3 linked regions of the Homo sapiens genome follow. Changing the gene in region 3 together with the main gene of any one other region gives a genetic interaction. Each region holds a gene or a part of one and is shown on either strand. Other genes may lie near its edges. The genes, in order: MRPL22, ACTR10 and POLN.

Region 1 (3,736 bases), on a different chromosome or scaffold from region 3:
ACAAATAAGTAAAGAATAACAATCTTTTTCAACTATTGAAGAGATAAATCTAGTACATCTTCTCTGTCAATTAGAGTGAATGGTTGTATAATTTTTTTAACACAGAATAATAAATCATTACTAATCACTTAAGAGTAAGAGCACTACCACAATTAAGAGATTAGTTCTACCCACGAACTTACTGCTGGTCTCCGAGGTTCTCCAGGCAGTTGTGGAGGATAAACAATTTTATTCTTCTTCTCCCATTTTCGAGAAATGTCAAGAGAAGCACTTGTGTGGATATATGATTGAGGTAAAACACTGTGAAATGAAAGAAGCCTATAAAACAACAGACACTTAGGGGACCTTTCTGTAGAGTTTACATATCTTTTGAACCACTTCAGCTCCATTTTGATGAAAACAATTTAAGGATCACAACTGGAAATATTCTAGAGGTATTCATTAATAGAGACTACTTTTAAACACAACAAAGAGACAGTTTATTAGAGGCTAACAGGAGAGAAAGTAAACGCACATAAGTCAAACCGTTAATAGATATTAACCCAAGATTTCTTGCCCTGACTGGCCAATAACACTGTCTTCTATAAGTCACCCACTCCTAAGAAAGATTTAGAGAAGACATAATGAGCTCTCTGATCTGACCTGTAAGATTGCCCAACTTTGTTGAGTAACTAAGACAAAAACACAAAACAATTAGAAGACAATATAAAACCACATAACTAAAATATGGGAAACAGCAGAGGATTTCAGAGGTGACTTCAGGTGAATCTTGAACTTCCTAATTGATATGGCTCGGCTCTGTGTCCCACCCAAATCTCATCTTCAATTGTAATCCATACATGTTGAGGGAGGGACCTGGTGGGAGGTGATTAGATCGCTGGGCAGTTTCCCCCATGCTGTTCTCGTGATAGTGAGGGAGTTCTCATGAGATCTGATGGTTTAAAAGTGGCAGTTTCCCTGCACTGTCTCTCTCTCCTGCTGCCTTGTGAAAAAGTTGCCTGCTTCCCCTTCACCTTCCCCTATGATTCTAAGTCTCCTGAGGCATCCCCAGCCACGCAGAACTGTGAGTCAATCAAACCTTGTTGGTTTATGAGTTACCCAGTCTCAGGTAGTATCTTTATAGCAGTGTGAAATGGACTAATACACTAATTATCAGAGGAATGGGGCAACGACATATATCATCTATGCAGAGGTACAGAGTTGAGAAATAAGGGGAGGTCTGACTGAGTCAGAGAATTTGTTAAGTATTGGAAAGGTCATTGAGGCTAGAGTGGTTGTCTTTGAATGCTAAACTAATAGGCTGAGACTTGATGATGAAGATCCCAAATTCACTATTCCTTGACCTCTTCCCCCACACTTTAACTGCTTTAATAATATACAACTAGTCATTCTCCCTCTCCCATTTTCCCCAGCATCCGCTACTCCCCTATATCACTAAATAAAATCACTCTTGAATGGTGTTCTAGAGTTTATCTTCAACTTCCCAATGATTTTCATCCTGCCAGAGCTAGTCACCAAATCTTACAGATAAAATAAAGATTCCCCTGAAATCGTTCTCAAATGCTTTACCTCTTCCCCATTCTAATTGCCACCATCCTATATAGCAATAGCCTCTAGATTGATTTCTCTTCCATCAACTTGCCCAATTCCAATCCATCTTTCTCTGCTTGAGTACCAAATGAGCTACCCTTCTATAATTCAGAGCTACTCATGTCATCCTCCAGCTTAAAAACGTCTATTGAAATAAGCAAATGAATAGTTATGTAATATTCTAATGCTATCCTTTTTTTTCAGTGTCACTGACTACTGGGATTCTTGGTATGGAAATAAGCAGAAAAGGTTCAGCCAAAATCCAATAAGTACTAGATCTCTCCACTGAAGAGGTGTAGAAGCAATGAACAATCTAGTAGCAATTAGTGCCCCTACTTCCCAGATTACGGTCTTGAAATACCATTTCCTATTGAAGAGAACCAAAACTTCTGAGAGAAATGGCTGATTGCAGATCTCAAGCAGATAACATACAAAATGAGCCCAGAACATCTTGTCATATCAGAAAGCAAAGAAGCCATCAAAGATTACCAAGGTCATGTCAAAGGCACTCAGGAGCCAACTTGTGGATGCCCAACAAGCCAAAGATGGGACAAGCCAAGCATTAATCAGGACAATAATTGTAGTGGGTTGAAACACATCAAATATGTTTAAAGCCATAAGTTCATAATAAAACCAGGAAAAATACAAATTAATTACCATTAGAAAATGCTAGTGAGCCAACTTGTTATTTTGAAAACTGGTGAATGAAGAGAAAGAATGAAGAAAAAGACAAGACTTATCCTGTCTTTCCTATACAAACTGTACCATTAAGTTTCCAAGTAGTAGATGAGGAAAAATTTGACTTGTATAAAGTTAGTAATGAAGGAATAGCAAATTATTATAGCATCATCTTATAATCCTTAATAAACTAATGGATAAAGGAGGCATTATGTGCCTCCTTATGGAAGAACACACCACCCACCATCCACAAAGTAGTCTTTCCTGCCCAAAATGAAACTGGGGGCTCAAGCCCCTAGATTCAAAATAGGAAACACAGAGAAAAGACAACATGTTACGTAATATCATGGGGATGCACTCGGTAAAATCCAAGGTATAGAAAACGCTACAAAACAACCAATTGTCTCCAACAAATAAATTACAAGAAAAAAAAGAGAGGGTTGAATAAAAAACCTACAGAGTAAGAGATTTAACAGAAATATCAATTAGTTTCAATGTGTGAACTATTATAAAGTATGACAGTTACGAAGCCATTGGAAGTTTAAATATCAAATGGATATTTAATGCTTTTTAATGAGATAATAGTAAAATATTTATGAAAATGATACAGTGGGGGGAGTGTTTCAAAATATGATGAGGGAGAGTACAGGTTATAAATAACATTGGCCATAAGTAGTAAGTGTTGAAGTTGGGTGACGGATACATGGAGGTTCATCAAACTGTCTACTTTTGTATATGTCTGGGCATATCCAAATAAAAAGTTAACACAGCAAACTTTGGTATTTCCCTACTGCCCACAATACGAAGTCCAGACTCTTTAGCGAGACATAGAAGGCCTTTCATAATCTAGACCCAATCTGCCCTTATAGCCTAGCCACATAGATGTTCATTGTTCCCTGAACAAGCCTTTATTCAAATTGTTTTCTCGTCTTATTATCTCCTGAATGAAATGCTTATCCTGTTTTAAGTTCTAGCTCAAATGTCACCTCAATGTGAAACATCACCTAATCCCTTATCTGATCATGATTCTCGCGTTGTCTTAATACTTTGTTCTTGCCAGCCATACAGCAATGACTTAGACCACTGTACTATCGTAAGTGGCTATAATAGAATGAGTTATTGTACTAAGTGTACAGATGTTGAGCATTTAAAGGGCAAGTCCGACTTTCTTTGTATTCTAGCACCAAGAACAATGTCTGGTACGTGGATACTGCGTAAACATTTAACTCAGACTTATATACTCAAAGTGGTTGTATATTGGCATATTCTCATACAAATATGCAACTTGGATGATTTACTTGGCAAACAAAACCTTTGTTTTTAGTCTTCAAGCCATTTAGACCAAAGACTCAAACAAATCTATTCTAGTGTATCATTTTTACCCCAAGTTCACTATCTCCTATCCTAATATCAAGATTAGTGCCATCAAAATACCTAACAAAATCAATACCTTTGCCATCCACATTTA
Region 2 (3,736 bases), on a different chromosome or scaffold from region 3:
ATAGATATATGAAGGAATCCCAGTTCTAAATTGTTGGGGAGCACTACCCCTAGGAGGAAAAGCTCTTCACAAGTAAGTTTCTTGGAATTTAACATATTCATTTCACCTGTGCCACAAAAACAGTTGCTAATCTGTTTGTTGATCAGTGATCAATAGAGGGCTTGTGATACGGACAGTGAATTTTATTCATTCCGCCCTCTATTAGCTTCGAGTATATTCATTTTTTAAGAATAAACCAGTTTTTTAAATTTTTAATTTTTGGGGGTACATAGTAGGTGTATATATTTATGAGGTACCTGGGATGTTTTGATACAGGCATGCAATGAGAAATAAGCACATCATAGAGAATGGGGTATCCATCTCGTCAAGCATTTATCCTTTGAGTTACAAACAATCCAGTTATACTCTTTACATGATTTTAAAATGTACAATTAAGTTATTATTGTCTACAGTCACCCTGTGGTGCTATTAAATAGTAGGTCTTACTGTTTCTATTTTTTTGTACCCATTAATTATCCTCACCTCCCTTGTATCCCTCCACTATCCTCCCTGGCCTCTGGTAGCCATCTTTCTACTCTCTATGTCCATGAGTTACATTGTTTTGCTGTTTAGATCCCACAAATAACTGAGCACATATAATATTGGTCTTTCTATGCATGGCTTATTTCACTTAACATAATGATCTCCAGTTCCATCAATGTTGTTGCAAATGACTGGATCTCATTCTTTTTTATAGCTGAATAGTATTCCATTGTGTATATGTACCACATTTTTTTCTTTTTTTTTTTAACTTTTATTAAGTTTAGAGATACAAGTGCAGGTTTATTACATAGGTAAACTTATGTCATGGGGAAGACCTTTATTATTATTATTATTATTATTGAAATGGAGTCTCGCTCTGTCACCCAGGCTGGAGTGCAGAGGCATGATCTCGGCTCACCGCAACCTCCGCTGCCTGGTTTCAAGCGATTCTCCTACCTCAGCCTCCCGAGTAGCTGGGACTACAGGCGTGCGCCGCCACGCCTGGCTAATTTTGGTATTTTTAGTAGAGATAGAGTTTTGCCATGTTGGCCAGGCTGTTCTCAAACTCCTGACCTCAGGTGATCCACCCGCTTCAGCCTCCCAGAGTGCTGGGATTACAGGCGTGAGCCACCGTGCCTGGCAGGAAGATCATTTTTATTTAAATCATAATAATCGGGCTGGGTGTGGTGGCTCACACCTGTAATCCCAGCACTCTGGGAGGCCAAGGCAGATGGATCACCTGAGGTCAGGAGTTCAAGACCAGCCTGGCCAACATGGCAAAACCCTATCTCTACTAAAAATACAAAACTTAGCCGGGCATGGTGGCGGGCACCTGTAATCCCAGCTACTCGAGAGGCTGAGGCAGGAGAATCACATGAACCTAGGAGGTGAATGTTGCAGTGAACTGGGATTGCGCCACTTCACTCCAGCCTGGGCAACAGAGTAAGACTGTCTCCAAAAAAAAAATCATAATAATCTATTATGTAGTTGAAAGTATCAAATAAGGATATCAGTTTCAATATTTTCATTCCAGTAACTTTTTTTTTTTAATTTCAGAGAGTTGGAAACTCAACTATTGGAACAATGTACTGTTGACACAAGTGTTGCTAAAGAACAGAGCCTTCCCTCAGTGATGGGTAAATTCATTTTAAGTGGTTTAGGAGTGGTTTACACTCTCTTTTTGTTCTTCAACTTGTATTTTAGTCTTTGCTCCATTGCATGATTATTCTCTTTTCTCCCCATGCCACTCTGATGGTACTGCTTCAACTATAAGCTCACCATTGAACTTTTAATCACTAAATTCAATAGTTTGATTTTAGTCATCCTTTCCAGAACTTTTGACATTGTGGATCATCATGTACTCTTGAATGCTTTCTTCTCCTTGGCTTTCAGGATTCTTTTTTTTAGTGGTTGTCTATTATTTCCCCAAATATTCCTCTGGTTTCCTCTGCTCTTGCTTTCTCTACTTGTATTCGACTAGGGATCTAGTGTTTGTTCCTTCTTTTTCTCTACTGGCTTTTTAACTGTGATCTTATCTACTCCCACAACTTCTACATCTGCATGCTGTTGATTCTGAAATGTGTCACTGGGCCTGATCCTTCTTCTGAACTTGATATTCATATTTCCAACTGATTATTAGAGACTGTGCATGTCTCTAGGCACCTCAAACTTAAGATTTCCAAAAGTGAATACATTATGTCTTTCCTCAAATTCATTTCAATTATTAGATAAAGGTAATATTTTCCTTGTCTCCCGTTTTACAAAACTGGAAGTTAGCCTTTCAATTCTTCAGAAATCTCTTTCAGATCTCATTTTTCTTTCTTTCTTTTTTTTTTTTTTTTTAACCTTCCACACCATTGAACACCCGAGAGCAAAGACATTGTTTTAATCTAGGCCCTCATTTCTTAGATTATTACAGAAGTCTACTCTGGATGGATTCGGTCTGTTTCACACTGTTGCCAGGAATAACTTTCCACAAATATTTTTATGTTTTTGAGACAGGATCTCACTCTGTTGCCCAGACTGGAGGGCAGTGGCGCGATCTTGGCTCACTGCAGTCTCCACCTCCTAGGCTCAAGCCATCCTCCATTCTCAGCCTCCTGAGTAGCTGGGACTACAGGCGCAAGCCACCACACCCAGCTAATTTTTGGGGGGTACATTTTGTAGAGATGGGGTTTTGCCATGTCGCCTAGGCTGGTCTCGAACTCCTGAGCTCAAGCAATCCACCAGCCCCCGCCTCCCAAAATGCTGGGATTACAGCCTGAGCCACTGTGCCCAGCCAATTTTTCACAAAATAAATATAAATACATTGCTCTTTTGCTTGAGAATTTTTGTAAGCTCCTACAGGTTAAAATCCAAATTATCTGTTGGATATAAATGTTTCTTCAAAATCTGAGTTTGTTCTACCTCTTATCCTTAGGTCACTAAACTTTATCCTTTGCTCCTTATTAAAGCTACAGTAAATTTCTTACAGTTGTCGAGGCACCGTGAGTCCTAGCACAGCCCTGTGCCTTCATTTATTCTTTTTCTTTCCCTGGGATGTTTTTCTTTGCCTAGTTTGGTTTTTGATCCCTCTGCATGACTCAGCTGGAATGTCATCTTAATGGTGAAGCCTTCCTCATCTTCCCTAAGCAGAATAAATTGCTCCTCTCTGTTAAGCCCTTGGCAGTAATTTATTATAGCACATATGACACATTCTCATTTGCCTCTTAACTCACTTGTTTCCCCCAGGAGACTTTGAGGATCCCTGTCTTATTTATTTTTCAATCTGCAGCACCTAGTATAGTGCTAGGGCATTGAATATATGTTGGAAAGCGAGATTTTTGCGACACTTAGGCATACCTATGTTTTCCTGTTGTTCCCTATTGATAGTTAAGTTAATAGCATTTTTCATTCTGTAGATCCAATTATAGCTTTCAAATTCCAGATAACTTTGTGATGTCTTAGTATATTTTGGTGACAGGTAATTTATAAAAGGTCTTCAAAGATAATAAATTCAGTGTAGCATCCCAAGATGTTCTTTGTAAAGGTCTTTAAACCCAATAATATTTCCATAAAATTATAAACGATACATTCTTGGATATTCTTTTTCTAGTCAACCTTGTACTGATTCTAACCTTTCCTTTTAATACTCACAATCTGAGTCTGTGATAGCCATGCAGTCCTACAAAATTGTGGAATCAAATCATACAAATATTTGCTGAAGCACCCACTT
Region 3 (3,500 bases):
ATGGCTTAATATGTTTTTGAGACTCACTCATGTTGATACACGTAAAGCTATATAGTTCATTCATAGTTTTCTCTTTTGTATAGTTAGTATTCCATTATATGATATTCCACAATGAAATTATCTGTTAGATTGACAGACATTTAGGTTATTTACAGTTTTTGTTACTATAGATCATACTGCTATGATGGTCTTATATGTCTCACAGCTGCACAATTCCAGTTTCTCCACATCTTTGCCAACACTTGTTATTTCCTGTGGTTTTTAAAACAGTAGCCATCCCAACGGGTGTGAAGTGGTATCTGTGATTTGTTTTTTGAAAGGTCTCCCATTACTGATTTTTGTCTTCTTGATCTATTGAGAATTGTGTAAAAATTTCCACTGCGATGGTGGATTTAAAAATTTCCACTGCGATGGTGGATTTGAAAATTTCTCCACATAGGCTGGGTGCGGTGGCTCACGCCTATAATCCCAGCACTTTGGGAGGCTGAGGCGGGTGGATCACAAGGTCAGGAGTTCAAGACCAGCCTGGCCAAGGTGGTGAAACCCCATCTCTACTAAAAATACAAAAATTAGCCGGGCGTGGTGGCGGGTGACTGTAATCCCAGCTACTTGGGAGGCTGACACAGGAGAATCCCTTGAACCCGGGAGGCAAAGTTTGCAGTGAGTCAAGATCGCGCCACTGCACTCCAGCCTGGGCGACAGAGCAAGACTTGGTGTCAAAAAAGAAGAAAATTTCTCCATGTAGTTGTATATCATTTTTTTCTCTATGTATTTTGAGTCTATTTTATAAGTTATATCCAGGTTTAAAGTTGCAGTGAATAATTATCCTGGTCGTTTTAAATTGCAGTGAATCAAAGCATTTAGCATTACATAATGACTATTCCTGGTGATGCTTTTTCTCTTGATATTGTTTTGTCTAATATTAATATTCCTTTGCCATTTTTCTTTTGCTTAGTAATGTAAGGCATATAGTTTTCTTTTCTTTACACTTTTCCAGTAAGTTTTTGTTATTAGTTAAGTCCTGATTCACGGACCCAGGGTAGGGATCATCATGTACCCAGGTCCCCGTTTACCACCCTGGGAGAAGGATGGAGAACAGAGGAAAGGTGGGGTGGAGCCAGTTCTGATTTTCCCAGGAAACGTGCCTTTGTCCCAGGTCAAGACCAAGGATATGGGGCAGAGGGACTTGCACACATGCCAGTACCATTTGCACACAGAGACATCACCCCCTTTAGCAGTCATTGCCGTCTTGGAGTGGTAGAAGTCCAGGTAGTTTTGCCAGCAGTTCATGTTCTGGTTCTAGTTGACAAAGTGGCTGTCAAATGGGACAGTCCTGTAGTTCTTAATTTTGACCTTCATGTCTTCTGCCATGGTGCTAACTTCTAAAGACCCTCAGCAAAGACCATAGTTTTGTTTTTACTTAGCATGATGAAATAAACATTTTTACTCTCTAAATAGTTTTCTTAACTTTTAATGTTAACTATACTGTCTTGATTTAATTACTGTGCCATCAATTTTGTAGCTGGTTATTGTTACTGGGTATTTTGATAGTCTTCTTTTTTTTCTTTTGTTTGCTCTTGAACAATATCATATGTATCTTTGTGTATATAGCTTTTTGTTGTTGGATACTTTCATCTGGATACATTCTTGGAAATAGGGTCATTGGGGTTTTTTGTGCCAGGGTGGTATATACACTTTTTTTTGCCTTTGATATGGCCAGATTGCTTTTTAAAGGAGTTTATAATGCTACCAGCACTATATAAGTGTCTACTAGACACCATTGACCATATGGCACGCCATCATTTTATGAATTGCCAAAAAAGAAAAACTCTTAGTTAAACCAACACAATGTTTTCTTATTAAGAATTTTTGTTTTTCATACTTACTAGAAAAGATCTTTTTAGATGTAGGTAGACATAGATTTTTATCATACCACTCTTGGGCATATGTTAAAAGGAAAAAAATAAGTCAATTTAAATGGTTAGGGTAGTTCTAAAGCATCACATTTCAATGTTCAATTCTTCTGTTATTTTTTGACTCAGAGTTGTCTGTAATTTTCCACACTGTGTATCAGGAATGTTGATGAGAAAGTATTTCTTAAGAGTACCTGGCCAGAAACAATCATATGATGTTCTTGATTAAGATGCATCTTCATTTCAGATATGTTAAAATGTGAAAAAAAAATGCATCCAAGAATCACTAAAATATGGTAATCTCACTCTAATCTTATCAGTGGGTATCATTAGTGTTTTTCCCTAGCTCAATGTGATATAAAATGCCGTATCAATTTTAACTTGTGTTTCTATTATTAATGAAGCTGAACTTCAGTATCTGTAGCAATGTTGTTTTAGCAACTGTATGATCTTTAGTATTTAATTGAAGGTAAAGATGAGATTGTTGTTTCTCAGTATATTCAAGTTTACCAAGTTTGTCTTAGAGGATATCACTAAATGTAGATATAATGTCGAAATTACTTGATTTTCAAAAGTATGTATTTTAAGAAGTACTCCTCTGTGAATTGGCATTTATGACAGGTCTTAAGTAGTCATTCTTGAACTTGTACATTAGAATCATCAGGGAGCGTATCAAAACGCAGGTTCCTAGCTCTGTACAGAGATTAAGTAATTTAGTCTAGTGGGGGGGTACAGGAATCTGTATTCATAACAAGTACCTCAGATAATTATGATACTTGTGGACTATGCCTAGAAGCTGTGGAAAATTGAGGGTAGTTAGAGCAACAGATTTTTCTGAGAACCTCTTTGGTGATACTGGCTAAAATTTATAAGTAGAATGCTTGATTAGAAAGCTATGGAAACTTGTTAATAATCTGGTTTAAATGCTAGACACTGAGGAATTTGAATTTACTGTAATAAATATGAAGGGTCGGCATGGCTAGATTCTTGAGCAGGAAAATTATATGATTAGGATGGTTTTCGTGGAATGTCATGTGTAATTCTATTTGGTAAGACAATATGAAAAAATGAAAAATGGAGATTTGTGTTGAGCTAATTCTCTTTTATTGGTCTTCATTTCAACTTTCTCTGTACCTTCTGTCCAGAATAAACAGAGAATAGGCTAAAACAAGGTTTGATTTATTAAGCAGAATATAAGCTCCATCAGGGAGATTTTGTTTATTCTTGTATCAGTAATCTCTAAAACAGTACTTGGCACAATAGCATTTGTTGAATATATGAATGCACAGAACAGCTTACATATCGAGTACACTTCAGCAAGAGTTTCCTTTGAATCACTTAAAATTATCTATCAGAAGTTGTTGCAATTAATCTTACTTAGAATTTATATTAAACCTGTTATGGATTTTAAATCGAGGTTTATTTATTGCTAAAATTGCGGGAAGTTATTAAGTCCTTTAAAGTCTTTCCATGTAAATTATATTTTAATTTTATAATTGGTATTAGGAATAAAGTGTTTTAATTTTTATTTTTATTTTCCTTTTTTAGGAGTTAACAGAGCAGTTTCATAAAGTTGAATCTCAACTG

The links.
Region 1: changes in POLN (region 3) and MRPL22 together harm fitness more than expected from each alone (negative genetic interaction), as found in Homo sapiens cells (one large-scale study listed by BioGRID).
Region 2: changes in POLN (region 3) and ACTR10 together harm fitness more than expected from each alone (negative genetic interaction), as found in Homo sapiens cells (one large-scale study listed by BioGRID).

Annotation. Positions count from the first base shown.
Region 1 is NC_000005.10:154,947,385-154,951,120, reverse strand, and holds part of MRPL22 (large ribosomal subunit protein uL22m), read right to left. Parts: intron 301-3,736; coding exon 183-300; intron 1-182.
Region 2 is NC_000014.9:58,213,627-58,217,362, forward strand, and holds part of ACTR10 (actin-related protein 10), read left to right. Parts: intron 1-4; coding exon 5-72; intron 73-1,578; coding exon 1,579-1,658; intron 1,659-3,736. UniProt on the Homo sapiens protein: Part of the dynactin complex that activates the molecular motor dynein for ultra-processive transport along microtubules.
Region 3 is NC_000004.12:2,232,122-2,235,621, reverse strand, and holds part of POLN (DNA polymerase nu), read left to right. Parts: intron 1-3,461; coding exon of another isoform or gene 3,462-3,500. Other genes in the region: HAUS3 (HAUS augmin-like complex subunit 3), read left to right, coding at 3,462-3,500. UniProt on the Homo sapiens protein: DNA polymerase with very low fidelity that catalyzes considerable misincorporation by inserting dTTP opposite a G template, and dGTP opposite a T template. Is the least accurate of the DNA polymerase A family (i.e. POLG, POLN and POLQ).